Linked DNA regions of Homo sapiens: regions 1 and 2 are each linked to region 3. The links come from fine-mapping of genetic effects on gene expression. A gene starts in region 3. Each other region holds a variant in brackets. All regions are shown on one strand. Distances are from middle to middle. Region 1 holds the start of GFAP (glial fibrillary acidic protein). Region 2 holds the start of LINC01180 (long intergenic non-protein coding RNA 1180). Region 3 holds the start of ADAM11 (ADAM metallopeptidase domain 11).

Evidence for each region.
Region 1: its variant is fine-mapped to the expression of ADAM11 in esophagus muscle (GTEx, PIP 0.97).
Region 2: its variant is fine-mapped to the expression of ADAM11 in skin (TwinsUK, PIP 0.95).

What each region holds. Positions count from the first base shown.
Region 1 is chr17:44,910,578-44,918,753 of GRCh38, forward strand. GFAP (glial fibrillary acidic protein) reads right to left here and starts at 4,923. Exons shown (of 9, transcript NM_002055.5): 1 at 4,449-4,923; 2 at 3,451-3,511; 3 at 3,151-3,246; 4 at 2,692-2,853; 5 at 1,095-1,220; 6 at 659-879; 7 at 38-81. The coding sequence starts at 4,909. LOC105371793 (a long non-coding RNA gene) reads left to right here and starts at 8,142. Exons shown (of 2, transcript XR_934781.3): 1 at 8,142-8,176. RefSeq lists an enhancer at 609-718 and a silencer at 929-998. The variant T/C (reference allele first, on the strand shown) is at 4,104.
Region 2 is chr17:44,648,046-44,656,221 of GRCh38, forward strand. LINC01180 (long intergenic non-protein coding RNA 1180) reads right to left here and starts at 2,304. Exons shown (of 3, transcript NR_110661.1): 1 at 723-2,304. The variant T/A (reference allele first, on the strand shown) is at 3,868.
Region 3 is chr17:44,753,958-44,762,133 of GRCh38, forward strand. ADAM11 (ADAM metallopeptidase domain 11) reads left to right here and starts at 5,031. Exons shown (of 27, transcript NM_002390.6): 1 at 5,031-5,303; 2 at 5,765-5,940. The coding sequence starts at 5,243. RefSeq lists an enhancer at 4,672-5,223.

The DNA of each region.
Region 1 (8,176 bases), 160 kb after region 3:
CTCCAGTGCCCTTCCCACGAGGCCCTGCTGTACTGACCTCGAATCTGCAGGTTGGAGAAGGTCTGCACGGGAATGGTGATCCTGAAAGAAAGCAGAGGGAGAGGGCTGCCCGGGCTGCCTGGGACACCCCTAGGCTGGGTCTTGGTGCGGGGCCATCATGACAACTTGAACGCCCTTTTCCTTGCCAGGAAAGTCTAACTCCATCTCCTAGCTTTTTCCCCAGCAGCCAACGTGCTATCTGGAGTTCCAAACGTCTGCAAGGGGCTTGAGTGTTATCTGGGAGGGGCGCATGTCTATCTGAAGGAAGATGGAAAAGGGAGGGGAAAGTGGTGAAGAAAGTTCCAAGGAGGCAGAAGAGATGGGTGAGGTGAGGAGTCCAATCTTGGCTGGGAAGATGGGGAGTATGCCTCTTAGTTTGGAGGGTGACCCAAGTCCTTGGCCTTGAGGCCTAATCAATATTGGTTGAATCCATCCATCCATTCAGTCATCAAACATCTAGTGACTGCCTGCTATGTGTGAGGCAGGCACTGTGCTGGGCATTGAGGTGGGAAGGGATCTGCACACAAGGCTGAAAAAGACTCAGTCCCTGAAGGGAGCAAGATGAGCTCTACCGTGAGGCAGCAGGGAGACTTCCCCAGGGGCTGTGATGAGGGCTCACCGGTTCTCCTCGCCCTCTAGCAGCTTCCTGTAGGTGGCGATCTCGATGTCCAGGGCCAGCTTGACATTGAGCAGGTCCTGGTACTCCTGCAAGTGGCGGGCCATCTCGTCCTTGAGGCTCTGCCCCTCTTCCTCCAGCCGCGCCAGCGCCTCCTGATAACTGGCCGCCTCCCGCACGTGCCGCTCCTCCTGCTCGCGCATCTGCCTCTCCAGGGACTCGTTCTGTGGGATGGAGCCGGCCGGTCCCGCGGAGCCCCGACCCGACTTGGGGAGGTTTCGAGGCCCGGCCCCCGGCCCCAGGCCCCGCCTCTAGCCCGGGGGTAACGTTCAGGCCCCGCCCTCGACCCAGGTCCTCGTCCCTGGCCCTTCTCCCCTGGCATCTCCTGGGGTGGCCGTCCCTGCTCCGCCCGTCCCCGTCCTGCCCTGGCCGCGCTCACCGTGCCGCGCAGAGACTCCAGGTCGCAGGTCAAGGACTGCAACTGGCGCCGGTAGTCGTTGGCTTCGTGCTTGGCCTGGCGGAGCAGCTCCGCGTTGCGGGCAGCAGCGTCTGTCAGGTCTGCAAACTAGGTGGGGGACACATATGGGGGGCTGTGTGGGCCCATGGGCAGGCACGGGCTCTGGGAAATCAGGGAGGTGAGCAGCACCCCAGTTAACCCCAGGACGTTGGCCCTGGCTGGGACTTTTCCCAACAACTGTGACCCATGGATGCGGGCAGGGTAGCGGGCTGCCAGACCTCAGCACCTAGCACAACACCTGGTCAGCAAGCGAATGAATGAACAGTGCCACAGAATCCAGAACCTTCCACACTGACAGCTGCATCTGCGGGACTGAACGCTGTCGTCTTAGGCGAGCGGAGGCCTGGGTGTTTTGTGTGTTTTTGTTTTTTTGTTTTTTTTGTTTTATTTTGAGACAGAGTCTTGCTCTTGTCGCCCAGGTTGGAAGTCAGTGGCACAATCCCGGGTCACTGCAACCTCTGCCTCCCAGGTTCAAGCAATTCTCCTGCCCCAGCCACCTGAGTAGCTGGGATTACAGGCATGCGCCACTACACCCGGCTGATTTTGTATTTTTAGTAGAGACGGGGTTTCACCATGTTGACCAGGCTAGTCTTGAACTGCTGACCTCAGGTGATCCGCATGCCTCGGCCTCCCAAAGTGCTGGGATTACAGGTGTGAGCCACCTCGCCTGGCCTCACCCTGGGTTCTAATAGCCCTTTCTCCCCTGCCTGCAGGGAGGTCCTCCCAGCCCCATCGGGCCCTCACCCTGCTCAGACACCAGTGGCTTCTGCCACTCACACTCCTCAGCTAGGTGCCCTGGCTAGGCTAGCATCTTGGGGCCCTGCCTCTCTGTGCTTTTCTGCCTCCAGGCTCTGTCCTCCACTAGGAATGGCCCTCCCTTCTTCTCTTCCTGTCCACAGCGTGCCTGTCCTGCCTAGCCCAAATGCCCCCTCTACAGTGTCTTTCCTGGCTCCCACACTACATATAAGCTCTGAGCTGTGGTGTTCTCTACGGGCACTATGTTTGGGTGCACGTCAATATCACACCTTCCAGGTCAGACACCTCTCTGTGTCCTGGGGGGTGCCTGGCATATGGTAGAGGCTCAGTAACCCAAAACAGACTGGCAGAGGCATGGAATGCAGGCTCCCAAGTGAGATGTGCTAGAGTTGGAAATCCAACTCTACCACTTAGGAGCTGTGTGACTTTGAGCAAATTAGTTAACCTCTCTGGACTTCGGCTCTCTCATCTGTCAAAGAACAGCACCTACTTCATAGTAAGGTAATCCATGAAAAGCACAGGGCTTAGAACAGAACAGTATCAGCTACTACTAATAATAGCAATAGTAGCAGTAATAATAATGGGTACTTTTGAAAGCAATAGTGCCTGTGTGACCCTGGGCAAGCCATCTCACTTCTCTGGTGAAAGTCAGTCACCTGGAGAGGATATTCTCCCAGCTTCCTCCACCCTCCTTCCCCCATTCTCTTGTACAGAGCAAGAAGGGCTGCCTGGAGGAGGCAGGCTGGCCCACAGGCAGGGCTACCTTGGAGCGGTACCACTCTTCGGCTTCATGCATGTTGCTGGACGCCATTGCCTCATACTGCGTGCGGATCTCTTTCAGGGCTGCGGTGAGGTCTGGCTTGGCCACGTCAAGCTCCACATGGACCTGCTGTCGGGCCAGCTGCTCCTGGAGTTCCCGAACCTCCTGACCAGGGTGAGAGAAGCGGTACCAGGGCTCAGGGTACAGGCCACAGCTGGGGTTCCCCACGCCATTGTGTCCTCTTCTGCCTGCCCCTCGGCCAGGAGTTCGAATGCTCTCTTGTCTCTTTCCGTCTCCCTTAGTGTCTTTCTGTTTGTCTTTCATTTCCTGTCTCTACCTGCCAATCTCTGTTTCTCTCCTCTCTCTGAGTGTCTCTCTCAGTCTCAGCTTCTCTGTCTCTGTCTCTCCCTCTCTCAGTTGCAATCTCTGTGTTGAGCTTTCCTCCCTCTGCCCTGGCCTCACCTCCTCGTGGATCTTCCTCAAGAACCGGATCTCCTCCTCCAGCGACTCAATCTTCCTCTCCAGATCCAGACGGGCCAGGGTGGCTTCATCTGCTTCCTGGAGTGGCAGGAGGGGTGAGGAGTAGAGGGCCACTGGGGCCCCAGGCTCCTTCTCCCCATTCCTCAGCCTTGCCTTACCCCTCCTTCTGGGGCAGTGGGGAGCAGCACATTGCTCTGGCGGGCTGAGCTTGGGGGCTGTGTTTGGGTGGGTGGCCATCAATCCTTTCCTCCCTCCCCTGCCCCTCCCCTCCACCTCCCTGACCTGTCTATAGGCAGCCAGGTTGTTCTCGGCTTCCAGCCTCAGGTTGGTTTCATCCTGGAGCCTGGAGTGGGGGGACACATTCCTGGGTCCAGGCTCTTCTGAGGACACTTGAATACCTGCCTCAGTCTCCCTTGAGGCAGCTGTCACAGAGACCACCCCCACCCAGGACCAGTAGAGCAGCAGGAGGATTAAGGGTTGGGGGGCCTTAGACAGAGGACTTGTCTGGAGGATGAGCAGATGTGGGCTTTTGCCTTAACTCATTACTAAGGTGCCTTATCAGGGTTGGTGCACCTGCTTCTGCTCACACAGGCGCATCCACAAGCATACACTCACTGTTGCACACACACACACACACACGCACATGTCCTCCTGCACTTGAAGGCACACATGCATGTCCTGTCAGCTCAGTGAAGCGCCATGCCCCTGGGGATTCCTCTGATCCCAGGTAACCACCTTTTGAAATGAATTTTATTATGACCACCGCTTCACAGCTGTGCAAGTCAAAGTAACTTGATGGGGGTCACAAGCTGGTGGCAGGCAGTCACCTGTGCTTTGCGCCCAGACCTGCCTGCTCTTTCCCTCACTTTCTTCACCCCAGAATCCAATCTCCCTCATGGACATCAACCTTCTCCGCTTCCAACTCCTCCTTTATA[T/C]GGACACAGGCTCAGAATAGGTGAGCTCGCTGCCCACAGTCACAAAGCCCAGCCATGAATGAAACACAGGGGCCCCGCTGCTCCTGCACTGCTTTCCCCAGTAGGGAGGTGCTGAGGGGACCCTGGACTCCTGGCAGAAGGCATGCGGGCATCAGATCCCCGGGGCCCTGGGCCTGTTTCTGGTCCCTCCCATCATGTTGGGGGGCAAGGATAGTGCCCCATCAAGAGGTAGGGAGGCCCAGGGAGCAGGGAGGTTCGGCCCCTCCCTGAGACTTCTCGGGCACTCCTTCTTGGGGATTCAGCCCCTTCTGCTCACAAGGCCCCCCTTCCCCATCCCCTCCTCACTTCTGCCTCACAGTGGCCAGGTCCTGTGCCAGATTGTCCCTCTCAACCTCCAGCCGGGCGCTGTTGGCGGTGAGTTGATCGAGCCGCAGCCGCAGCTCTCGCAGCTCAGCCTGGTAGACGTCTGCCAGCTTGGTGGGCTCCTTGGCCCGCAGCTGGTTCAGCTCAGCAGCCAGCGCCTTGTTTTGCTGTTCCAGGAAGCGAACCTTCTCGATGTAGCTGGCAAAGCGGTCATTGAGCTCCATCATCTCTGCCCGCTCACTGGCCCGGGTCTCCTTGAAGCCAGCATTGAGTGCCCCAGCCAGGGAGAAATCCACCCGGGTCGGGAGTGGAGGGGGCATTCGAGCCAGGGAGAGGCGGGTGCCAGGACCCAGACGGCGGCCAGGAGCCAGGCCCCCCACCATCATCTCCCCTGAGGAGACGTAGGAGCGGCGAGCAGCGGAGGTGATGCGTCTCCTCTCCATCCTGCTCTGGCTCTGCTCGCTCCTGGGATGCGAGGGCTTTATGAAGGAGTGGGCTAGACTGGCGATGCCCGGGTGCCCCTGGCAACACCCCCTGGCATAGCCTGAGGGGGTGGGGTTGGGCCGCAGCCCAGCTATGGGGAGAGCTCCCCTCACCCCACTGAGGTCACTGTGCCCAGAGGCAGAGCTTCCTGGGCACGCCAACTCCTGCATGAGGCAGGTGGTACCTGGAGCCAGACCATGGGTCTGGGGCCCTGACCGCTGAAGCAAGAGGACCCTCTCTCTAGGAAGGTGGGTCAAGAAAGGGTTGGTTGGACCATGATGAATACTTACAATTATTATGCATCAATTAAAAAGGAAGGAAAGGGCTGAGTGGGGTGGCTCATGCTTGTAATCCCAGCACTTTGGGAGGCTGAGGCTGGAGGATTGCTTGAGCCCAGTAGGTTGAGGCTGCAGTGAGCTGTGTTTGCGCCACTCCAGCCTGGGCAACAGAGAGAGACCTTGTCTCACAAAAAAAAAAAAAAAAAAGGGAAGGAAGGGCTGTACCAGATGACCTCTGACCTGCTTTCCAACTTTTTGATTTCATAACCCAGGCATTATCTCACTCAGCTGTAAGTGCCTGCAAGGTGCTGGGAATTTGGCGAAGAATGAACCTGTTCTGTACCCTCAAGGGCCACCTCATTTCCTACTAGGCCTCATTCCCAGCAGACTCCTGGAGTCCTTCCCTTGAACACAGATGTCCCACATTCCTGCTCTCTGCCCATTCATTCCCTGGAGTTCTGGGGCTGGGGGCTGGGATTGGACACCAGCCCTTTGTCTAAGGGTCAATCATGGCCTCTATGTGGCAGTGGAGGTCCTGATAGGGCAAGAGGGGGCCGGCACTCTCTTGCCTTATCAGGACTTTAGCCCCTGGATCTGTCCCTCCAGGTCACCCCTTCCTTGTCTGGCCTCCCTGTGCCTCTCTCCCAGAGACCAGGCCTTGACAGCTCCACAAAGCCGTTACACATGAGCTGGCTGTGCTGGCTCGTCTTTATTCCTGCAGCGCCCCGTTTCCCTGGCCACCCCTCCGTCTCCCACTGGAGATTTATTTCCTCGAGTTCCCACACATCAGCCTGGAGAGATGGGAAGAACCTCTGGGGATGGATGGGTTTGGAAACGCTGGAGCCACTGGGCCCAACTAGGAGCCTGAGACCTGGGCCCTGTTGTCCCTGGAGACTTCAGGTCCATCTACGCCCTCCACTCTGGTCCCACAGGGTCAGAACCCTGCCCAGTCCCCTCACCCATTTGTGTCCTTGGACTTCTGGGAAGCAGACAGCCCTCCTCTCCCCCCCTGCCACCCACTGTCCATGCCTGGGCATCCCCTGATCCCCTTTCCTGGGCACAGGCTGAATAGAGCCTTGTTCTCCACCGCCGGTGGCGCCACACAGCAAGGGCAGCCCCTAGGGGGCTGTGCTGCTTTTATCCCAAGATGCCAGGCTGTCAGGCTGGGGTGCAATGCAAGCCCCCTGCTCAATGGGCTTCTCGGAAGGCATTTGAGGGGGGCTGGGGTGCGGCGGGAAGCAGGCACTGTGCCCACCCCGAACATTGTGTCTGTGCCAAGGTGAGTCATTCACTGGGCATGAAGAGGAGGCCCTGGGGGGCGGCCAGCCCAATGCTGCCAGGTCTGCTTGCAGACAAGGCCTGGCTGTCTGCCTCCTCCCCAGCTCACAGAGCCAGCTCAGGCCCCCGAGCCTCTGTCAGAGCAGCGTCCCCTACTCCACACCAGGATATGTTCTTTTTTTTTTTTTTTTTTTTTTTGTCTTTTGAGACAGGGTCTCACTGTTGCCCAGGCTGGAGTGCAGTGGCGCAACCACGACTCACTGCAGCCTCAACCTCCCAGCCTTAAGTGATCCCCTCACCTCAGCCTCCTGAATAGCTGGGACTACAGGTGTGTGTCACCACACGTGGCTGATTTTTTAACTTTTTTTGTAGAGATAGGGTCTTGCCATGTTGCCCAGGCTGGTCTAGAACTTCTGGGCTCAAGTGATCCTTCCACATCAGCCTCCCAAAGTGCTGGAATTACAGTTGTGCGCCACTGCGCCCAGCCCAGGGTATGCTCTGCATTTGGACATGTGATGGACAGACTGCCTCCTGAGGTCTCCCTCTGTGAGTCCCAGCACAGAGAGGGAGGTGGGAGCTCCTTAGGCTCTAGTCACATCTGACCTGGGCGTAAGCAGTGACATAGGAAAGAGCATCTTGAAGACGGGGTGAGCGCCCAGTGACCTTTGATCCTGCTATGAACTGGGGACCTGGGGAAGGACAGGAGGCTTTAAAGGAAGAGCAAGGCTGGGCATAGTGGCTCATGCCTGTAATCCGAGCACTTTGGGAGGCTGAGGTGGGCGGATCGCTTGAGTCCAGGAGTTCGAGACCAGCCTGGGCAATGTGGTGAAATTTTGTCTGTACAAAAAATACAAAAAAATTAGCCAGGTATGGTGGTGCACTACTGTGATCCCAGCTATTCGGGAGGCTGAGGTGGGAGGATCACCTGAGCCCAGGAGGTGGAGACTGCAGTAAGCCAATGTCGCATCACTGCACCCCAGCCTGGGTGACAGAGACTCTGTCTCAATAAATAAAAAAATAAAATAAAATAAACAAAATAGAAAAGGAAGACTGGGGATAAGCTCTTGTCTGAACTCTGTCTCATCTCTGTGGCTAGGAGTGGCCCGCCTTTCCAGGCTGCCCAGCAAGTCACAGCATGTAGCCTTCCCTTTTGGTTCAAGGGAAGTCTAGTTAAAATAAGGGCAAAGCTGTCCTAGAGAGAAAAGATGTGATGAGCAGGAGGTGCCTGTCATTGAAGCTCAGTGAACTGTCCCTGTGTATGTGAGACACAAGCTTGTTTCAGCATCAGCAGTTGGAGTCCCCCAGCTTTTGCCATCAGCCACCTCCGTGGACCCCTGTCATAGGCCCAGGTGCATCCTCCACCCCTTCTCAACCCTCAGACCTTTCCTCACACTCAACCCTTAACTATCTTGTTTTTGTTTTTTGAGACAGGGTCTTGCTCTGTTGCCCAGGCTAGAGTGAAGTGGTGCTATCACAGCTCACTACAGCCTCAATCTCCCTGGCTCAAGCGATCCACCCACCTCAGCCTCTCTAGTAGCTGGGACCACAGAGATACACCACCATGCCCAGCTCATTTTTGTATTTTACTAGAGACAAGGTTTCGCCATGTTGCCCAGGCTGGTCTCGAACTGTTGGGCTCAAGTGACCCTCCCACCTCTTCCTCCCAAAGTG
Region 2 (8,176 bases), 110 kb before region 3:
ATAGATAAACTGTGGTACATCCAATGAAATATTATTCAGTGCTAAAAAGAAATGAGCTATCAAGCCATGAAAATACATAGAGGAACCCTAAATGCATATTACTAAGTAAAAGAAGCCAATCTGAAAAGTCTACACATGGTATGATTCCAATTCTATGACATTCTGTAAAAGGCAAAACTATGGAGATAGAAAAAAAAAAATCAGTGGTTGCCAGGGGTTGAGGGGGGGGAGAAATGAAGAGGCGGAGCATAGAGGATTTTTAGGGTAGTGAAACTATTCTGTATGATACCAAAATGGTGGATACATGTCACTATATACTGTTCTAGACCCATAGAAAGTACACCACCAAGAGTGGATCCTAAAGTAAACTATGGACTTTGATTGATAATGATATGTCAATGTAGGTTCATTGATGATAACATATGTACCATTCTAGTGCAGGATGCTGATATTGGGGGAGGCTGCATCTGTGAAGGGGCAGCAAATCTGTATATGAGAACTCTTTGTACTTCCCTCTCAATTTTGCCATGAACCTGAAACTGCTCTAAAAAATAAAGTCTTTTTTGGGCTGGGCACAGTGGCTCACACCTGTAATCCCAGAACTTTGGGAGGCCGAGGCAGGCGGATCACCTGAGGTCGGAAGTTCAAGACCAGCTTGACCAACATGGAGAAACCCCATCTCGACTAAAAATACAAAATTAGCTGAGTGTGGTGGTGCATACCTGTAATCCCAGCTACTCGGAAGGCTGAGGCAGGAGAATTGCTTGAACCCGGGAGGCAGAGGTTGCGGTGGGCTAAGATTGCGCCACTGCACTCCAGCCTGGGTGACAGAGAGAGACTCCATCTCAAAAAAAGAAAAGAAAAGAAAACAACATTAATTCTCACTTTTGAAGGGATAGCAGGAAGATGCATATTAATATTACAGCATCTTTGATAAAAACCAATCTATTTGGCCGGGCATGGTGGCTCATGCCTGTTACCCTAGCACTTTGGGAGGCTGAAGAAGGAAGATCCCTTGAGTCCAGGAGTCCGAGACCAGCCTAGGAATACAGTAAGACCTTGTCTCTACAATAAATACACAAAATTAGTGAGCATAGTGGCAGGCACCTATAGTTGCAGCTACTCTAGAGGCTGAAGTGGGAGGATCCCTTGAGTGCTGGAGGTCAAGGCTGCAGTGAGCCAAAAAAAAGACCAATGAATTCAAGTGTCTACCCCCTAACCCAAACAGAAGCAGACCCTAAATCTTTCAGGGTGTCATCCTAAGCTAAGTAGAAATCTAAAAGTTTCCTAGAGCACAGATAAGAGTGACCTAGCACTCCAGCCAACCAGAAAGGGAAAAGCAGAACATAAGCTTACTTTCTACAAAGGAAGCAGCTATACAAATTATGCCAGAGAACTAGAAAAACACTAATTTGAGTATCCAAAAGGGGGGAAGTAGTTCCAAATATTTCTAATAAAGAGCATTCTGTAAGCCTTCCAACAAGCTATTAAAGGTTGAGAAAACCTATCTGGCAACCCAGTTAATTTCAGGACACATAATTACAGGAACTTAGTCCCTCAAGTCAGAGATGCCTGTGAGGAATTGCACGGTTTGAATCACAGCAGATTTGCAGCCTATTTAAGTTTTTGGACCACTAGAAAACTGGAAAAACAATTCATTTAATATAGTTGAGAGAATACTTAAAAATCCTACATCAATTCAATTATATACTGACTTAGAATTATATGATTACTTCCTATGGAGGGTTAATTCCCTGGCATTTAGGTTGAGCCCCTACATATACCTTCAATTATCAAAAAAAAAATCAAAACTTTATTTGAACTCAAAGTTTTACTTATGAGAATAATGAAATCTTACTTAGATTAACACTCAAAACATTTCTTGGGGATAGGCTTTTTAAAATGAAACCCATAATTTATTTTTGTTACAAAAGGAAATGTTTACGTCCCTGTTAAAGTATAAAAAGGGTCTCATTAGTGTATCTGAAGAGTACTACATTGTACATTGTCTTCCAGAGGTGGAAAAAAAAAGAAGTTAACTTTTACATATACTTGAAAGGGAAAGTCTGCATTCTGCACTAAGTTTTCTTGAATGGAATAAGTTTAAATTGTCCTCAGTTCTAGCAAAGAATGTTCTTAAATATCTGTCTTTAAAAATCCAATAGTAGGGCCGGGTGAGGTGGCTCACGTCTGTAATCCCAGCATTTTGGGAGGCAGATGGATCATCTGAGGTCAGGAGTTCGAAAACAGCCCGGCCAACATGGTGAAAACAGCATGGCCAACATGGTGAAACCCTGTCTCCGTAAAAATACAAAAATTAGCTGGGCGTGGTGGCGGGTGCCTGTAATCCCAGCTACTTGGGAGGCTGAGGTAGGAGAATCACTTGAACCTGGGAGGTGGAGGTTGCTGCGAGCCGAGATTGCACCATTGCACTCCAGCCTGGGCAACAAGAGCAAAACTCTGTTTCAAGAGAAAAAAAAAATCCAATAGTAATTTCAGATTCACTTAAATATCCCCAAAATAGTAAGTGGAAAAAAAAGTTTTTTACTTGGGAAGCCGAGGCAGGCGGATCACAAGGTCAGGAGTTCAAGACCAGCCTGGCCAACATGGTGAAACCCCGTCTCTACTAAAAATAGAAAAATTAGCTGGGCCTGGTGGTGTGTGCCTGTAATCCCAGCTACTCAGAAGCCTGAGGCACGAGAATTGCTTGAATCTGGGAGACGGAAGTTGCAGTGAGCTGAGATCGTACCATTGCACTCCAGCCTGGGCAACAGAGTGAGACTCCAAAAAAAAAAAAAGAAAAGAAAAGAAAAAGAAAAAGTTTTTTTTACTTGAGGGCAGCATCATTCTGAATTGGATCAAAGTTACTGAAATGTAATTAATCTTATTGTATAAACATGTCTTTCGTCATTGTCCCTGTATAGAAACAATAAATGGAGAAAGAGGGTCAATAGTCTCTCCCTCCACAAAATTTTAAGTTCAGATCAAGGCAGAGAAGACATAAAACAATTATTTGAGTATTCCTAACTCTTTCTCACTTTAATCTGAGGTTTGTATATATGTCTGAGTAAGACTGGGAAACTAACCCCACCCAACCCTCAACACACACGTTGAAAATGAGATCTTCCAAAAGAGAATGAAAGAACTGAAAGAACTAACTACATATTATATACTTACTCTGTTCATAACCAAAATGTTTTCTTTGTTAATGTATTCACTCGAATTCAATAGAGTGTTAAATTTGCCAGTAATTTTTATTTCTACGACAAACCATATTAATACACGACAAGACAGTATGACTTCAAAAAATGAGCCAAGAACTTAAATAGGTATTTCTCCAAAGAAGATATACCAATAAGCACATGAAAAGATGGTCAACATCATTAGTCACTAGGGAAATGTAAGTCAAAACCACAATGAGATACCAATTCACATCCTCTAGGATAGCCATCTTTTTTAAAAAAAAATTTTTTTTGAGAGATGGGGTCTCTCATCTCTCATGCACGCCAGCATGGAGTGCAGTGTCATGATCACAGCGCACTGCAGCCTCAAACTCCTGGGCTTAAGGGATCCTCCCACTACAGGCTCCGGACTAGCTGGGACTACAGGAGCATGCCACTGTATCCAACTGGCTTTTTAAAAAAAAAAAAGAAGAAGAAAAAGAAGAAGAAGAAAGAAAACAAAACAAAAAGGCTGAGTGCAATGTCTCACACCTGTAATTCCAGCACTTTGGGAGGATTGCTTGAGGCCAGAAGTTCAAGACCAGCCTGGGCAACACAGAAAGACCCTGTTTTTACAAAAAAAAAAAAAAAAATATATATATATATATATATATATGTATGTATATATATACATATATATATATTT[T/A]TTTTTTTTTTTAAAGAAAGAAAAAGAGACTGGGTGTGGTGCCTGTAATCCCAGCACTTTGGGAGGCTGAGTGGGGAGGATCACTTGAAGCCAGGAGTTTGAGTATTCAGTAAGCTATGATCATGCCACTGTGGTCTACCAGTCTACGCTGGGCAGCAGAGCAAGATCCCATCTCTCTCTCTCAATCTCTGTGTGTGTGTGTATACATATATATATATATACACACACATACAGTAATACATATATATAGTAATTTCAGATTACCATAGATTACTATATATAGATCTATACAGGGATATATAGATATATATAGATCTATAGATATATCTCCCTGTCTATATATAGAGATAGATATATATAGATAGATATACAGAGATAGATCTCTCTATATCTATTTATATCTATCTATATGTATATCTATAGAGAGAGAAATTTTAAAAAGAAAAAATAGGCTGGGTGCAGTGGCTCACGCCTGTAATCCTAGCACTTTGGGAGGCCGAGGCAGGCGGATTGCCTGAGCTCAGGAGTTCGAGACCAGCCTGGGTAACATGGAAAAACCCTGTCTCTACTAAAAATACAAAAATTTAGCCAGGCGTGGTTGTGCGTGCCTGTAATCCCAGCTACTCGGGAGGCTGAGGCATGAAAATCCCTTGAACCTGGGAGGCAGAGGTTACAATGAACCAAGATCGTGCCACTCTACTCCAGGCTGGGTGACAGAGGGAGACTCTGTCTCAAAAAAAAAAAAAGAAAGAAAGAAAGAAAAAGAAAAAGAAAATAACAAGTGTTGGTGAGGATGTGGAGAAATGGGAACTCTCATGCATTGTTGGTGAGAATGTAAAATGGTGCAGCCACAGTGTAAAACATTTTGGAATTACTCAAGACATCGAATACAATTACCATATGTCCCAACAATACCACTCTTAGGTATATACCCAAAATAATTGGAAAAAAAATTAATCAAATACTTGTACACCAATGTTTCTAGCAGTACTACGCACAATAGTGAAAAGTTGAGAGCCAAGCGCGGTGACTCATGCCTGTAATCACTTTGAGAGGTCAAGGCAGGCAGATCACTTGAGGTCAAGAGGTCGAGAACACCCTGGCCAACATGGTGAGATCCCATTTCTATTAAAAATACAAAAATTAGGCGGGGCACGGTGGCTCAAACCTGTAATCCCAGCACTGTGGGAGGCTGAGGCAGGCGGATCACCAGAGGTCAGGAGTTCGAGGCCAGCCTGTCCAACATGGCAAAACCCTGTCTCTACTAAAAATACAAAAATCAGCCAGGCATGGTGATTCATGCCTGTAATCCCAGCTACTCAGGAGGCTGAGACAGGAGAATCACTTGAACCCAGGAGGCAGAGGTTGCAGTGAGCTGAGATCATGCCACTGCACTCCAACCTGGGTGACAGAGCAAGACTCTGTCTCAAAAAAAAAAAAAAATTAGCCAGGTTTGGTGGCACATGCCTGTAATCCCAGCTCCTGGGGAAGCTGAGGCAGGAGAATCATCTGAACGATTCCTCCGATAAGGGGGAGGTTGCAGTGAGCCAAGATTGCGCCTGCACTCCAGCCTGCAGCACAGAGCAAGACTCTGACTCAAAAAAAAAAAAAAAAGGTGGAAACCACCCATGTGTCCATAAACAGATGAATGCTTGAACAAAATGTGGTATATCCATACAATGGAACCTTAGTCAGCCATAAAAAGGAATGACATTCAGGTATATGCTATAACATGAAGGAACCTTGATGACAAGGTTTATTTTACCTTAGTAAAATAAGCCAGGCACAAAAGGATAAATATTGTATGATTCCACTTATATATGGTACCTAGAGTAGTCAAATTCATAGAGATAGAAAGTAGAATGGTGGTTGCCAGAACTGGGAGAAGGGGGCATGGGGAATAATTATTTATGGGATGCTGCAGAGTTTCTGTTTGTGATTAATGAAGTTCTGAAACTGTAGAGCGGTCATGGTTACACAACATTATGAATGTGCTTAATGCCACTTAACCAAACACTTAAAAACGACAAATCTTATGTATATTTTACTATAAAAATACATAAGGGGATTCATAGCTTTTCAAAATGCTTCTAGGGAGTATAGGAGAGGGGGAAAAAGCCAGTAGTCCTCAATGCAATGAGCCCTACACCAGCAACTTTAAGGCTGAGGCAGAGAAATGTAACTGTTAGAGCCACACCACCTGGTCAGCTTTTTTTAAGTGTGTGTGCGTGTGTGTGTGTTTGTGTGTGTGTGTGTGTGTGTGCATGCACATTTTGTTTTTCCTTTTTGTGGAGCACTATATTCCCCAGGCAAATCTCAAACTCCTGGGCTCAATCTATCCTCCTGCCTTTGCTTCCCTAAATGCTGGGATTACAGGTGTGAGTCCAGCAGCTTTTTTTCTTTTCTTTCTTCCTTTTTTTTTTTTTTTTTTTTTGAAACAGGGTCTTGCTCTGTTGCCCAGGCTGGAGTGTGATGGAGTGATTATGGCTCACTGCATCCTCCAACTCTCCAGCTCAGGCGATCCTCCCATCTCAGCCTCCCAAGTGCAGGTACCTGGGACTACAGGCACACACCACCACACCCAACTAATTGTTAATTTTTTTGTAGAGACGAAGTCTCCTTATGTTGCCCTGGCTGGGCAACTCCTGGGCTCAAGCAATCCTCCTGCCTCGGCCTCCCAAAGTGCTGGGATTACAGGCACAAGCCACTGCGCCCAGCCTTGGTGAGCTTTCTGAACTCAAAGCTGAGTAGAGACCTGAAGTAACTATCAGGACAATATGGGTCAATAAAACTCATCCTCCTACTTCCATTCGTGTCTGAGTTAAAACAGTATCTTCCACTTAAGTGCTCATTTCTCAAGTTTTGATTTTAAATATAAAAACAGCCTAAAGGTGCTTACTGTGTTTACTTCTTTTATATTTCAACTATCTGATTTTTTAGCAGTGTCTAGGGACAAAAACTAGCATTTCTCTGAGACCATCACATCCCCAATCTGACTGCTATGTGAATGGTTTGTTGGGTGCCTGGAATGGCTTGTTTATGTAAGCTCTCACCTGTAATCCCACACTTTGGGAGGCCGAGGCGGAGGATCACTTCAGGCCAAGAGTTCAGTTCAAGACCAGCCTGAGCAACATAAGGAGATCCAACCCCCTACCCCCATCCCCACCTCCAACCCCAGCTCTACAAAAAAATTAAAAAATTAGCTAGGGCCAGGCGCCGTGGCTCACGCCTGTAATCCCAGAATTTTGGGAGGCCGAGGCGGGCGGATCACGAGGTCAAGAGATCGAGACCATCCTGGACAACATGGTGAAATTCCCGTCTCTACTAAAAATACAAAAATTAGCGGGGCGTGGTGGCGTGGGCCTGTAGTCCTAGCTACTCGGGAGGCTGAGGCGGGAGAATCGCTTGAACCCGGGAGGCGGAGGTTGCAGTGAGCCTTTGCGCCACCGCACTCTAGCCTGGCGACAGTGAGACTCCATCTCACCAAAAAAAAAAAAAAAAAAAAAATTAGCTGGGAGTGGTGGCACGCGCCTGTAGCCCCAACTACTCGGGAGGCTGAGGCGGGAGGATCGCTCGAGACCAGGAGTTTGAGACCAGCCTGGGCAACATAAGGAGACCCAACCCCCCCGCCCTTCAGCTTTACAAAAAAATTAAAAAATTAGCCAGGAGTGGTGGCGCCGCGTGCCTGCAGCCCCAGCTACTCGGGAGGCTGAGGCGGGAGGGTCGCTTGAACCCGGGAGTTCAAGGCTGCAACGAGCTATGATAGCGCCACTGCACTCCAGCCTGGGCGACAGAGCAAGACCCTGTTTTACACAGACAAACAAAAACGAACAAAAAGGTCACAGCGAACTTTGTTCAAAAGTCACATTAACACTTAAATGCCTTAACCCGGACTGAAAGCCCGGGCTTAGGACACAGGGCAGCTCTCCCTCAAAAAGGGGTCTCCCAGCAACACCCAATCCACAAGTTGCTCCTCGCCCTCCCCAAACCGGTACAAGATATATCAGTCTCTGGGCAGCTCCAACGGATTCTGAAGCTACGGGAGGGACTAAGGAACAAATATGAAATGTCGGACAAATGAAATGTGCGCAACAGCTAGGTTTTGGAGGATAAGCCAGTTGCTGAGCGACTTCTCAAATCTTCCAAGTGCCTCCAACACCTCTCCCACCCGGTAGGGCTGCGCTCTTTAGCTCTTTCAACCTTCCACGACCGGCCTCTCCGCTGCCCTATCAGCAAATCATCGGGCCGGTGCCTGCCAGTCCGGGCCAATCCCGAACACATTTACTTTGAGCGGGAAAAGCTCAGAAGC
Region 3 (8,176 bases):
GGCTCCGGCCTCCTAGGGAAGGGGCTTCCTAAGGGAGGCCAGAGACCCACCCCTCAGGGCCCCACAGCTCCCTCAGCAAGAGCAACCCCAAGAGTGGCATCAGGGCAGCAGAAATAGTGGCCCCAGCCTCAATGGATGGACCGAAGGAGCCAGCCATAGCTATGAAGTTGAGGTGGGGCCCCCCAGGGAACCCTATGTTTGAGGGGGAGACACAGGCCTGCCCCGATCTAAGCAGAAAACAGCCCTTGCTATCAGGGTCAGGTCTGATGAGGAGGACAAGCCCTGCTCTTCTGAAGTCCCAGTCTGATGAAGGGCCACCAATGAGAAAACAGACAGCCCTGACCTCAGGAGGGACGGTGGGTGAAAGAACGTGAAGCAAGCTTTCTGTGTGGGGATCCCACAGCTCCTAAGAGAGCTGAGGCAAGCATGAGACAGGGGAGGTGGAACCTCAGGGACTGGGGACTGTGATCAAGGGAGAGGCAAGAGGTCTAGCCGAGGCCGGGTGCCAGGGTTCACAGATGTAATCTAATCCCAGCACTTTGGGAGGCTGAGGCTGGAGGATCACTTGAGTTCAAGAGTTCGAGACTGGCCTGGGCAACATAAAAAGACCCCCGTCTCTACAAAAAGAAATTTTGTTAGCCAAGCATCGGCCTCATGCCTGGTAATCCCAGCACTTTGGGAGGCTGCTCTGCCTCCCAGGTTCACCCCATTCTCCTGCCTCAGCCTCCCGAGTAGCTGGGACTACAGGCGCCCACCACCACGCCTGGCTAATTTTTTGTATTTTTAGTTGAGACAGGGTTTCACCGTGTTAGCCAGGATGGTCTCGATCTCCTGACCTCGTGATCCACCCGCCTCAGCATCCCAAAGTGCTGGGATTACAAGCTTGAGCCACCACGCCTGGCCTTGAATGGCTCTTGAGTCCAGGTGTTGAGAACAGCCAGGACAACATGATGAAACCCAATCTCTACAAAAAATACAAAAGTGCTGGGCACGGTGGCTCACACCTGTAATCCCAGCACTTTGGGAGGCCAAGGTGGGCAGATCACTTGAGGTCAGGAGTTCAAGACCAGCCTGGCCAACATGGTGAAACCCCATCTCTACTAAAAATACAAAAATTAGCCAGACATGGTGGAGCACACCTGTAATCCCAGCTACTTGAGAGGCTGAGGCAGGAGAATTGCTGGAACCCGGTGGGAGGAGGAGGTTGCAGTGAGCCGAGGTCATACCATTGCACTCCAGCCTGGGCAACAGAACAAGACTCCGTCTGAAAAAAAAAAAAAAAAAAAAAGCCAAGCTTGGTGACGCCACCTGTAGTCCCTGCTACTCAGGAGGCTGAGGCAGGAGATGACTTGAGCCCAAGAGGTCAAGGTTACAGGAAGCTATGATTGTGCCACTGTTCTCCAGCCTGGGCAACAGAGCGAGACCCTCAAAAAATTAAAAAATAAGGTCTATTGCCTGCAATCCCAGCACTTTGGGAGGCTGAAGCAGGCAGATTGCTTGAGGCCAGGAGTTTGAGAACAGCCTGACCAACATGGCGAAACCCCATCTCTACTAATAATACAAAAATTAGCCAGGCGTGGTGGTGCACACCTGTAATCCCAGCTACTTGGGAGGCTGAGGCAGGAGAGTCACTTGAACCCAGGAGAAGGAGATTGCAGTGAGCCGAGATCATGCCACTGCACTCCAGCCTAAGCAACAGAGTGAGACTCCCATCTCAAAAAAAAAAAAAAAAAAAAAAAAAAAGATCGGCTGGGTGCGGTGGGCTCACGCCTGTAATCCCAGCACTTTAGGAGGCCGAGGTGGGTGGATCACCTGAAGTCAGGAGTTCGAGACCAGCCTGACCAACATGGAGAAACCACATCTCTACTAAAAATACAAAATTAGCTGGGCATGGTGGCACATGTCTGTAATCCCAGCTACTCGGGAGGCTGAGGCAGGAGAATTGCTTGAACCTGGGAGGTGGAGGTTGCGGTGAGCCGAGATCATGCCATTGCAACAAGAGCGAAACTCCAGCTGGGGGTGGTGGCTCACCCTGTAATCCCACCAGCACCCTGGGAGGCCGAGGCGGGTGGATCACGAGGTCAGGAGATCGAGACTATCCTGGCTAACACAGTGAAACCCCGTCTCTACTAAAAACACAAAAAAATTAGCTGGGCATGGTGTTGGGCACCTGTAGTCCCAGCTACTCGGGAGACTGAGGCAGGAGAATGGCATGAACCCGGGAGGCGGAGCTTGCAGTGAGCCGAGATGGCGCCACTGCACTCCAGCCTGGGTGACACAGCGAGACTCCATCTCAAAAAAAAAAAAAGAGCGAAACTCAATCTCAAAAAAAAAAAAAAAGAAAGTTCTAGGCCAGGCATGGTGGCTCACACCTGTAATCCTAGCACTTTGGGAGGCAGGCAGATTGCCTGAATTTAGGAGGTTGAGGACAGCCTGGACAACATGGTGAATTTAGGAGGGTGAGAACAGCCCGGGCAACATGGTGAGATCCCATCTCTACTAAAAATACAAAAAATTAGCCAGGTATGGTGACACATGCCTGTTGTCCTAGCTGCTCGGGAGGCTGAGGCAAGAGAATCACTTGACCCCAGAGGTGGAGGTTGAAGTGAGCCGCGATCTTGCCACTTTACTCCAGCCTGGGTGACAGAGCGAGACTCTCCAAAAGAAAAAAAAAAAATAGTAAGTTCTAGCCGGGTGCGGTGGCTCACGCCTGTAATCTCAGCACTTTGGGAGGCCGAGGCGGGTGGATCACGAGGCCAGGAGATCGAGACCATGCTGGCTAACATGTGAAACCCCGTCGCTACTAAAAATACAAAAAAAAAAAAAAAATAGCTGGGCGTGGTGGCGAGCACCTGTAGTCCCAACTATTCAGGAGGCTGAGGCAGGAGAATGGCGTGAACCCGGGAGGCGGAGCTTGCAGTGAGCCGAGATCGTGCCACTGCACTCCAGCCTGGGCGACAGAGCCAGACTCTGTCTCAAAAAAAAAAAAAAAAAAAAAGTAAGTTCTAGCCAGATCTGCTGGGAGCCGGGGAACCCAGGAATATAAGTGGCTATGGGGGCCAGGGAGCCATATGACCGAGTCTCCACTGGAACTAGCCCAGGGTGCCACCAGGGAGAGTCACTCTTAGGGCTCATCAGGTCTCCCCAACAGGAAGTCTAGGGTCCCAGGGCCACCGATGTGGTAGGAACATGCCTCTGGTGAAGAGGCCTGGACCACAGATTGGGCTTGCTCTGTGGTCTTGAACATGTTGGAGGACCCAGACTCTCCCAGCCCCGGGCTCGCACTGTGAAATGACAAACCTCACCCAGCCTACTGGGGGGCACTCCTGATCGGGACTTGCTGATGTGGCCCTGGGACATGGGCAGGCTGGAGCAGGACAGCCACCTTCGTGTCTGGGGTGTGTGGTGAGGGTGCATGGGACCAGATATACCAGTCCCCTCTGGTCCCAAATGGAGGGCAGAGATGGAAGTAGGACTAGGGGTGGCTAAGAGGAGTGGGGCCATGGAGTATGGGATGTGCCTTTCACCAGCTGTGTGACTTTGAGAAGCTCACATAACCTCTCAGAGCCTCAGTTTCCCCATCTGTAAAATGGGGAGCACAATCTCTCCCTCTGGGCTCATGATGAGTTTCCAGGAATACCACCTAGTAGGCCCTCATTCCCAGGAGCCTCCTCATGCCTACATCTTGGAGGAGGTTCTCAAGATGTCTCCAGAGCGAAGGAAGAATTGGCTCAGCCTTACTGAGCATCTGGGCCTGGCATGGCAGGTGGTTGGGGGTGGGGGGAGTCACTTGGTTCCCTACATTGATGTCAGCGCCTCCTGGGAAATCGCCTTCTCACCTCTCCTGGGCCTAAAATAGAGCGGGGGGTGGGGGTGTCACAAGCTAGAGGCAGTTCCCTCATCCCCAGCAGAGGCCCTGGGTCCTTGCGGAAGCAGAGGACCCAGGAAGGGGTTTCCTGCCTCCAATCTTGTTCTTCAGCAACCTGTGGTCCCCTAGCATGGGTACCAAAAAGGTCAGGGTGGGGACTCAGCGGCCCACCCACCATGCCCTACCACACCCCACACCATCTCAGGTATCTGGCCTTCAGCACCCCTAGCAGAAGTCTGAGGTCCCAGCCCTGGTATTGGGACCCAACATCCCCAGGAGCTGGGTGGAGGGCACAGCTGGGAATGTAGGTTGGGAGGTCAAGTATTTTGCAGACAGGGCAGCCTAGTCTGACCAGAGAGGGAATGCTGGGGGGCTCCAGAGGTGTCTTCTGCTCCTAAGGATTGGGACTAGCAAGGGAGGGGGAGCCATGGGGCATGCTAGCAGCATATAAGTGACCTGGCTAGTTTATATTTTATCTAGGAGGAAGGACAGGACGCCTGTGAGAGACTCAGGAACCCAGACGGACATGCCAGCCCTTCCTGATGGTTGGAGTGACAGCGATCCCTGAAGCCCTCCTGGAGGCCGGGGCATCTTTGGCGGGGAGAAGGAGCCGATGGGAAGGGGTCTGTACCGCGGGCGTGAGAGGACTCCGCAGTGACACGACCCGTAGCGAAGGTGCAAGAAATCCCAGAGGCGTAGAGCCCGGCGTTCGCCAAGAGCCTTTGCCCACCCCAACCCCAGCTTCCACAGCCTGGGGTCAAGCGGGGCGCTCCAAGCTGGGGCTGGGGCAGCCTCTCTGGGGTACCACGACAGAGGGGCGAACGTGGGCGCCGCAGCCACGCCCCTGCCCCCGGGCCCCAGACAGGCAGTCGCCGGGTCGACCCCGGGGGTACCCCGTCCCCTGCTTCCCTCCCCTACAAATCTACGAGTCCTCGGAGATGCTCAGGCAGAGGTGGCCGAGGAGAGGCCGCGGGATAAGTACGCGGAGCGCCACCGCCCCGCACCTGCCGAGGAGACTTCGAGGTGCGAGGAGGGACCCCGGGGCGGCGCCTCTTTTGTCCTGCCGCGGCGGCGGCCCGGGCCCTGCGGGGCTGGGGGGGCCGGGGGGCGGCGGGAGAGCGGAGGGCGGGCCCTGGGCTCACGTGCTCGCTGCTCAGCTCTTAACCCGGCCCCGCCGCCCCGCCGGGATGGCCGCGGCCGGAGCGCGCTGAGCCCCGGCGCCGTCCCTGCCGCCCCCACCTCTCCGCGACCCCCGCCCGGCCCCGCGCCCCCGCCCCGGCTCCGCAGCTGGCGCCTCCCCACCCCCGTCCCTGCTCCCGCCCTCCCCGCGCCGCTGGCAGCCGCAGCCCCCGGACCGGGAGGAATGAGCGAGCCATGAGGCTGCTGCGGCGCTGGGCGTTCGCGGCTCTGCTGCTGTCGCTGCTCCCCACGCCCGGTGAGTGACCCCCGCCCGGCCCCGGCGCCCCCTCCCTGCCCCCGCCCCGGGATGTGCGGCGCTTGCTGCTGCAGCCACCTTTTCCTGCAGTGCTCGGGGTGACAGCCGGTCCGGAGCGCGGGAGGGTAGGGGAGCGGGAGAGGAGGGAAGGTGCGTCCACCCACCTGTCCCCAGCTGGCCGGGCCCACCGCGTCCCTGCCCCTGCCGCCGACCGGCCAGCTCTGCAGGTCTCTGCGGGTTTGGGCGGATGGGGGGGCAGTCGTGACGGTTGGGCGGGAGTGAAGCTCCTGGCCCCCTCCCCGCGGGCTCTTGCCTCTGCAGGGCAGCCAGATCCTCCCACCCGGATCGCCCTAGGGCTCCAGGGGCCACACCAGAGTGGGGGATGAGGCATGCCCACCCCATTCCCAAGTCTTCTGCCCCAGGGTGGGCAGCTGCCTGCAGCCATGGCCTTGTTTCCCCAGGTCTTGGGACCCAAGGTCCTGCTGGAGCTCTGCGATGGGGGGGCTTACCCCAGCTGGGAGGCCCAGGAGCCCCTGAGGTCACGGAACCCAGCCGTCTGGTTAGGGAGAGCTCCGGGGGAGAGGTCCGAAAGCAGCAGCTGGACACAAGGGTCCGCCAGGAGCCACCAGGGGGCCCGGTGAGTGGGGCTGGGTGGTGAGGCCAGGGGCTGAAGCAGGCCTCAGAGCCCCAGGAAGCCCACGGGGTAACCAGGGTTGGAGTCCCCCTCAGCAGCTGCCCCGCAGGGTCCCCTTCTGTACAGTGGGCTATCCGGTGGGTGCTGGAGCCCACTGGTGGGGAGCACCAGGCCTGCCCAGCCCCAGGGCCCCCTTCCATTATTGTAGGGTCCCCTGCCCTCAGTGTACAGGGACCACTAATGCCTAGGTCTCAGGTCTGCTTTGGGTCAGCCTTCCAATGGCCCCCTGCTCTGCTCTGGCCAAAGCTAGTTGTTCTGTTCAAAACAGGGCTTGGATGGGGCAAGTTGGGGGCAGGGAGAGGCAGCCCAGATTCCAGTCAGGGATTAGGGCTCTCAGGTTCTCACCACAGCCACCTTAGTGGGCTTTCTTGGAACAACTTAGTGCTTGCTCCTGCCTCAGTTTCCACACAGTGCCCAGATAGGCTTGTTGTTCTTCCTGTCCTGGCTGAAGGTGGGGCCTTGGAAAATAACTTGAGGCCCCAAGCCAGCTCTACCTGCCTGCCCACTGTCCCTTTCAGCTGCCAGGCCCCTCCTGCCTCCCAGAGGAAGGTTAGGCATGAAGGAGATTAATTGCAATTAATAATTAATTAATATCATGTGAATAATAATCACCCAGATGGAATATTCATTCAGCACACCCCAGCGCTCCAAGAGCTGGAGCTGAAAGTGAGCCAGGCCAACAGGGCAGCAGAGGGCAGGTTGGCTGGCAAAGGCCCGGCACAAACAGGAGGTATAGGGGGGAGACCCAGAAGAGGGGTACAACTGAGGCCTGGGAAGTTTTGGCAGCGGGGAGTGGTGGGAGGTAAATTGGGCTGGGCAGAGGGAGGAAGGAGGGAAACGGAGGCTAACATTACGGACATCTGTCAGACTGGCATCTGGCCCTGCCTAATGTACTTGGTTAAAAGCCCTTAAGGGAGGGGAGCAGAGGGGGATGCGGGGTGGTGCAGGGGTGGAGAATACTGATGAAATGGATGGAGCAGGAAGGGAGCATGCATAATAGATGGACCATCACTCAGGGCCGTGCAGAGGGGCAGGGGGAGGGGGCTAATGGTCCAAGGCCCGCAGTCACTGGGGGTGGGGTGGGGGGTGGAAGCTGCCTTCAGCAACTGCCCAGGCTCCCTGGGAGGTGTGCAGTCCTAGGGCCGGGGATGGGGTGTCCTGGCCGCTGAGTCTGGCTGTCTTGCCTGGTGTCACTCCCTACCTGTGAACTGTGCACCCCGTGGTTACACTGTGGGGGAACTGATGGTCTGCCCGACTGCTGGGACTCTGGCTTATGCTTTAAGGGATGTGCAGATTGAGTCATGGAGGGATGTCACCGCAGGGAAAGGGGACAGAGTTGAGGAAAAGCCTGGAGTCAGGTAGGGATGAAAAGTCAGGTATTCCAACTGGGCAGGTTGCTCCTTCAGCCTGACCCTTTCCGAACAGAGACAGAGGTGGCAAAGGGTAGGAGGTTCTGGGCTGTGGTGGTGTCTGCAGCTGCGTGGGAAGGTCAGGATGGGTGCAGTTGAACTGCTTGGGTTGGGGGTCTCTGTGTTGTTCTGCAGGTGAGTGAGTGCATGTGAGGTGTGTATGTGATCCACCGATTCCAGATACTTCTGAGGGGTGTCTGAGAGCCTGCGGGGAGGGAATGGAGTTCCATGGATCTGCCGGGCAGTGATTATCTCCAATTTTGGGGTCTCTCTGAGACTGAGACTTCCTAGGGCCCTCATGGCGACCTCCTCAAGGGACTTGTTTGGGGCCCTCTCTTATCTGTGCCTCAGTTTCCCCTGAGGTACCAAAGCTGTGGACTTCTATGGGCCACTCTGCCAAGCTTTGTATGCACTCTACATCACTTATTTCTCACAACTCTGTAAGGCTTGTAACTTTTGTGTGTTTATGTGTGTGTGTGATGGAGTTTTGCTCTTGTTGCCCAGGCTGGAGTGCAATGGCGTGATCTCTGCTCACCCTAACCTCCACCTCCCGGGTTCAAGCAATTCTACTGCCTCAGCCTCCCGAGTAGCTGGGATTACAGACGTGCGCCACCATGCCTGGCTAATTTTTTGTATTTTTAGTAGAGATGGGGTTTCTCCATGTTGCTCAGGCTGGTCTCGAACTTCCGACCTCAGGTGATCTGCCCACCTCGGCCTCCCAAAGTGCTGGGATTACAAGCGTGAGCCACTGCGCCTGGCAGCTTGTAACT